Linked DNA regions of Homo sapiens. The protein of the gene in region 1 purifies or fractionates together with the protein of each later gene. This does not show direct contact. Each region holds a gene or a part of one and is shown on either strand. Other genes may lie near its edges. The genes, in order: FSBP and DCLRE1B.

Region 1 (3,692 bases):
CAGAATCGCTAAAGGGTTTATTAAAAGAGATTGCTGACACCCCCAGGGTTTCTAATTCACTTGGAAATGGATTTACATTTCTAACAAGTTCTCAAGTGATGCTGATGCTGCTGGTCAGGACCCATACTTGGAAAACCATTGGTCTACTCCAAAGGCCACAAAGTGGAAGCCCAATGGCTCAGTGAGGCCCACTCACATGTTGTCTGTATAATGTTTTAAAAGCATTTTGTGTTATTTGCAAACATTTTAAAATTGGAAGATTCCTCATTAAAAAATGCAGATTTCTGGTTTATCCCCGCATGTGAAAATTCTGCTGGAGCTAAACAGCAGCTACCCTACCTAGTCCAGGGAGATGTCCTTCCTAGTCCAGGATACTACAGCCCAAATTGACTCTCTCTACATTCACTTAAAATCAATGGCTTAGCACTGCATTTGTGCTTATATACTCAATCCACTTTTTCCCATTCTTTTGTCTTTTTTCCAGCGTCTCACTCTTGACTTCAAACACCCATGGTCCCCTTCACTGCTGAAATTACACCCACCCCATTCTACAACTTGGCTTAAAAATCCCTTCTCAACAAAACCCCAGCAAAAATAGAAATTCTTAAGTAACATACATATTAGAGATTTAATATAAATTTAATATGTATGCTTTAAGAATTGAGGTTTTATTTCCATGAATACTAAAATAACAATACTTATAAAATACATAAAATTTTAATTTTGTTCATTCTGATTTTTACTGTGAAAGAAATTTTTTCCAGAACAGGACATTCAAAATGAATTAAGACATGTCTTTAAATCACACAGCCAAAATATATAATAGCTTCAATGGAATACCTTATCTATTTTGCTGGAACAAAAATAGAGAGAGAATGGGGGTAATTGATGTAATTATCCTGATTTCACAACCTAACAATCTTTAAAGGCAATTTTAATGAAAGAAATGCTTCTAATATTTAAATCTAGAGAATGTTTTAGTGGATATTTACTTCTATCGAATAGCGGGATGGAAATTACACAAAGAAAAACTAAGTGCTGGTCTCTGCTCTGCCATAAATAGCTTTGTTACCCTAAGTAAGTCATTGAGTTCTCCCTGGACCTGTTTCATTACCCCTAAACTGCAGAGATGGAAAAAAAGTGTTCTCCAAATATCTTCCATCTCTAAAATCCTAGGATTTACTCCTTCAAAAGATAAAAGCATAAAAACCAATGTCATACAGACAAGCTTCTTGGTATTAGGTTAGTATAGCTCCTAAATTAGACTGACTTAAAAATCTCTAATTATAGCTTTCAAAGTTCTAACTAAAAATGTTGAAGACTCAGAACTTTGAAAGAATATGTGTTTGTATATGCATTTGTGTATATCTTAGTGATCAGAATAAAATATCTTTTGTAAGGTCAACAATTAAACTTAGGGAAAAAAAAAAGAAGACAATAAAAACTATAACCATGCCAACCAACCAGTAAATTTTAATATCTCAAAAGAAAATAATTAGAAAATTATATCTAAAAAGTTTTTCCATAATAGAGATTAACAACATTTTTCAAGAACGTGTATTCTGTTTCAGGATATTCCCAAATTAAAGTAATTTGGCCAAAATCAAAATTATCAAATTGCAAGATTGAAAAAAAAACTTAGAGACTGTTATATTCAGGTAGATCATGCCGTAAGCGAATTGCTTTCAGCTTCTCCACTTCAATTTTTGCTCTTAGTAGCTCTTCCTCTAGCTGCTGCCTTCTTTTCAATCCATCCCTCTTCTCCTGAACATACAATCCAAAATTTTTTTGATTTTCTAAAATTATCTGATGCTCCTCTTTCAACATTTGCAGGATCTGAGGATCATACCCTAATAGTGACCTAAAGTGTTCACCACTCTCATGCCGAAAAAAATCATCTCTCCTTGGAATAGAAGATGGAGACGATGTCATTCTCATATCAACAGAGGAAAGTGAAGGCGACAAGGATCTTTCCATAACATGTACTAATTCATGTTCTTCTCTTTGCTCTAAAGTATCACTCTGTTGAGAATTTAAAACCAGTGGAGGAGGTGGTTTAATGTCTTCTTCTTGCTTCACCTCCACTGTAATAGCAACAGGATGGTGATCCAACATTACCTGTAGTGAACTGGTACCAGCCTGTGCCTCCTCATCCAAGTTTGCACTATAGCACACAAAAAAGCATTATAATATGTAAATCAAATGAAGAAAAAGTGTATATTTATAGCATAATTTTAATTTAATGTACATTAAATGATAAAGCTTTAAAACTATAAAGTTACAAAATAAAAAAAAATCTTAAACACTTGAAATACATTAAAGTGACTAAGATTGGGATTTCAATAATACATACTCACAGATCTCCCCCATCCTTAACTTTAAAATTGTGCTTTAAAGGAGCAGGAAATTACAAATATTATAGAAGGCCAATGAAGAAAATAAAAAGAAAAGCCAGTTTTCATGTTGTCAAACAGACACCAATCTTTCCCACAACCCTAAGGTTTTCAAATGGTGTACAGAGCCATTTAATGCATTCTCAGTCTTGTTATCCCCATACCTTAGCCCTAGACCTCAGGCTTCTGCTCTCCTGGACTGATCTTAAAACCATGAAGGCCCATAACTTATAAAAGGACAGTGAAAGGCCATCTATGGGAGGTACTGATTTCTGCATTTGCCCAAAAAATAAAACATAAAGATTGTATATGGCTTTGGGATATGCTCAACTACTGGAGGTTATCCTAACTTTCTTATTTCAGATGCTTTTATCTGATAGGAAAAACTTCCGTTTTACCTATTCTGAACCATATGACTCAGATGCTGTTTAAGTCTTTCAATCACTGGTCAGGTAAAGTTCACAAGAGCAATGGTTTTAATCCACAACTGTATACTCAGTACCTAGCAGGTACTGTACTTAGAACCTAGTAGGTGCTCATTATGTGTTGAATGACTGAAAAAAAACAAACTAAATGATTTTTTAATGAAACATTTTTAATGGCCTATACAGATATATTAAAGGTTTATTAAATTTACACATAATTTCCACCAAATATGCATTCCCAATGGAGACAACTACAGCTTTAGCATAATTTAAGCTTCAGCATAACAAGTTATGATATTATAAATGCAATAAACCTTAAAATTCTGTTTTATAAACATAATTTTATGTATAACGTGAAGCTGTGAATTAAGAATATCTGCTCCTTGAGGTTGTTTTTTTTAATTTATGCTTCTGCCTAACTTAAAAATAAAAGTTATAAAGGGAAATTAGATCATTGAACATGAATGGAAATACTTTATTTAATATTATTTAGAGAAGATTTTACATATAATAAGAAACATAATTAAAAGAATACATTCTACATGGATGATTAAAATGCTGGAACAAGTTCAAGCAGAATGCATAGAAAAAGATTAAAACTACCCATACGTTACTTACTAATGCCATTAAATTGCCAGAAATATCAGATATTTATCTAAGAGACAAAATGAAACATATATAGTATATAATAAAAAATCTATTTGTAGGTTATATAAATTCATTTTTGTTCTTGTCTCTGTTTGTGTCATTTTATTATTTCCAAAAACAAAACAATTAATTATAAATGTAATTCAAAGTAGCAAGCTCTGCTTCTATTAATAGCTCTGCTAAAACCTGGAATGGGAAAAGGCTAAAATTGCATATGAAAATTAAG
Region 2 (3,459 bases), on another chromosome or scaffold:
ACTGAAGCCTTGCCAGGTGGTGCCCATTGTAAGTCGGCGGCCCTGTGGAGGCTTTCAGGACAGTCTGAGCCCCAGGATCTCCGTGCCCCTGATTCCGGACTCTGTACAGCAATACATGAGTTCTTCCTCTAGAAAACCAAGCCTTCTCTGGCTGTTAGAAAGGAGGCTAAAGAGGCCGAGAACCCAAGGTGTTGTGTTTGAATCCCCTGAGGAAAGTGCTGATCAATCTCAAGCTGACAGAGACTCAAAGAAGGCCAAGAAAGAGAAACTTTCTCCCTGGCCTGCGGACCTTGAAAAGCAGCCTTCCCACCATCCTTTGCGGATCAAGAAGCAGTTGTTCCCAGATCTCTATAGCAAAGAATGGAACAAGGCAGTGCCTTTCTGTGAGTCTCAAAAGAGGGTGACTATGTTGACGGCCCCACTGGGATTTTCAGTGCACTTAAGGTCTACAGATGAGGAGTTTATTTCTCAAAAAACCAGGGAGGAAATTGGTTTAGGGTCCCCCTTGGTACCCATGGGAGATGATGATGGAGGTCCAGAAGCCACAGGGAATCAGAGTGCCTGGATGGGCCATGGTTCTCCCCTGTCCCACAGCAGCAAGGGCACCCCTCTTCTAGCTACTGAATTCAGGGGTCTAGCACTCAAATATCTTCTGACTCCAGTGAACTTTTTCCAGGCAGGGTATTCTTCCAGGAGATTTGACCAGCAAGTGGAAAAATACCATAAACCCTGCTGAAGACAGGAGAGTACAGAATGACAACATTGAGCCCACACTGCAGTTTTGAAGATAGTAACTGATGGCTGGTGGGAAAGAGTTTGTTTTTGGGGCCTACTTTTCTATCTTTACAAGACTCTTATGGGCCCACCGTGGAGCAGCACTTCCCAAAACTTGTTCACTGGGGTCCTCGTGCCTATGGAATCCTTCTTTTTATAACTAAGTTTAAGAAATACTTTTTTTATAAAATCTTTGGAGTATGCGTGAGCAAATTAAAAGTTCTTTGAAGTCCTACAGTAACTTAATCTGTTTAACCTTGTTTAACCCAGTATTTCTCAAACTTTTGTGAACATGCAATCATCTTATGTGGGTACAGAAAGAGGTAAAGAGTCTGAATCAAAAAGGACCAGGTTATTGCTGTTGCTGTTTTGTGGTGTCATGAGCCATTCTCCATGTCCCCTTCTCCCTCTTCTCAGATCAAAATCCCTAGGGAGTTCTATTTTTAAAATTATGAACTATGGCGCTGCATGCTTCAATCCTGAACGTCACTGACTTGCTGTGACCATCCAAATAATTTTCCTGTCTCTGCCTCTGGGAGGGAACAGGAAGCGATGAAGAGGTCTTGGAACAGTAGTGAAAATTCTACCTCTATGTCCTTCATGAGGATGTGCAGTATCCCAGTATCACTGGGATCCATGTGGAACAGAGCCAGCTGGGGGGTTGGGCAGCTCTCTCCAAGGCAGTACCTAGAGCCCAGCTGAACAACAAGGCTTTGGGTGTGAAGGGACTCCCCAGCCTGGAGACCCTATTTGGCTGAAACAGTTACAAAATATCAAATGTGTTGTCAGATATTCCTCCAATTGTTCACATAGCTGGGATATTTGTTGCTCCCCTCACCCCTTGGATTATGTAGGGAGCCAGTGCACACAGCCTGTTTGTTTTAGTATCCAAGGAAGAGACCAAGGAGCCAGCTGGCGGGAAGGGGTGGGGGTGTGCAGTCTGCCCTGTCCTTCTGCTCATAACCTGACAAAATGCCAAACTAGTAAGCAGGATAGCTGATACCACGGCTATGAGGGAGTAGGCTCTGAGAGGGCACAGACTTGTGGAGCTGGGCGTCTGGATCAAAACTGCTTTGGGATGGAACCTCGAGCCCTAGCAGTGAAGAAGATTCCATTTCTTGTCCAGGGGATTTAAAAGAGTTTTCTGCTTTGAGAGAGAAATAGAGAGTTTAGAAAGCAATTGCTCTTGGGAAAGCTATACACAGCTCTGTTTTGTCAATGACCTTTGTTGTAAGTCTCCCAACGTCCTATTAGGAGCCACAGCAGGTGAGGCATTTGGTGCAGCAGGAAACATGGGGACTGCCTAGGCTCGAATCTGTGGCACCCTGAGCAATTACTTAAATTGTGGAGCCTAGTTCCTCATCTGTAAGATGGACTTGAGATTCCTACCTCTCATGATTACTATGGAGATTGAATAATTGGTAAAATTCTCCTAGCTCAGTGACTGCCACAGGATGGGTCTTTCAGATTTTGGTTCTCTTTAGCTTCTGGTTCTTGAAAGAAATTAATCTGTATATAACATAAGAAACTTTGAAAGTCAAAAAAACAAAAAATTTTAATTCCTCGTAGATTAATTGATTTGCTATCTTTTAGTTTTTTTTTCTATGCATGTAGATGTATTAAATATGTAAATGTTTTTCAAAGTTGAGGTAATATTGTATAGAATTTTATAGCCTACATTTTAATTTCTTGATATCTTAAGCATTTCACTTATTAGATATTGTTCAAAAATGCCATTTTTAATATTTGTATAATACCCTATCATGTGAGTATACCTTAACTAAGCCATTCCCATATTCAACATTTTGTGTACTGTTTTTCTAATTACATATATTACAATGAACAACCTTATGCATATATTTTGCATTTTTATTTCCTTAAAGTAAATTACTGGAGTTAGATTATAGTTTTAAGTTCTTGATACCAATTGTGCTGAATTGCCCTCCAGAAAGGTTTCCTGACCATCTTTTCTGCAGACAGGATAGCATTAAAATACCTTGAAGACTCATTAGTTTAAATGAGATCACAAGAACGGTACATGTTAACACATGGAAAATCATCTCATGTGTTAACTTAATAAATAGCTACTAAACTGTGTGGGCAAATTTAGCTGGACTTCCTCTAGCATCCTCTAGCTGTCTGACTTCTAGGCGGCCGAAGGTGGCTGGGAGAGATAAGGTAGTTCTCAGTACAGGGGTTCCCATATTGGCGTTATCTTCTAGCAACAAGGGAGCCCGTCTACTCTTGGCACATGCTGTGTCACACCTGTTCCTTCAAGTGGGTTCTATATGCATTCAGATAGGGGAGGGGAAGCAAAAGACTTTGAGGAATTTAGTTGTTGGTAGCATGTTTGCATTTGTTTGTTTGGCTTTTTTTTGGAGACAGGTTTTAGCTCTGTCACTCAGGCTGGAGTGCAGTGGCACAGCCATAACTCACTGCAGCCTCGACCTCCCAGGCTCAAGAGATTCTCCCACCTGAGCCTCTTGAGTACCTGGGACTATAGGCATGCACCACCATGCCCAACTAATTTTTTTTTTTTTTTTTTTTTGTAGAGATGAAGTTTCACTATGTTGCCCAGGCTGGTCTTGGTGTTGAACTCCTGGCCTCAAGTGATCCCCCCTACCTTGGCCTCCCAAAGTGCTGGGATTACAGGCATGAGCCCGTGTGCCCAGCCATGTTTGTGTT

The links.
Region 2: the proteins of FSBP (region 1) and DCLRE1B purify together in Homo sapiens (affinity purification with mass spectrometry; one large-scale study listed by BioGRID and IntAct). This does not show direct contact.

Annotation. Positions count from the first base shown.
Region 1 is NC_000008.11:94,430,493-94,434,184, forward strand, and holds part of FSBP (fibrinogen silencer-binding protein), read right to left. Parts: intron 2,165-3,692; coding exon 1,639-2,164; 3' UTR 1-1,638. UniProt on the Homo sapiens protein: Transcriptional repressor that down-regulates the expression of the fibrinogen gamma chain. Represses transcription of GSK3B gene promoter via its interaction with APBA1.
Region 2 is NC_000001.11:113,911,456-113,914,914, forward strand, and holds the end of DCLRE1B (5' exonuclease Apollo), read left to right. Parts: coding exon 1-736; 3' UTR 737-2,631; downstream 2,632-3,459.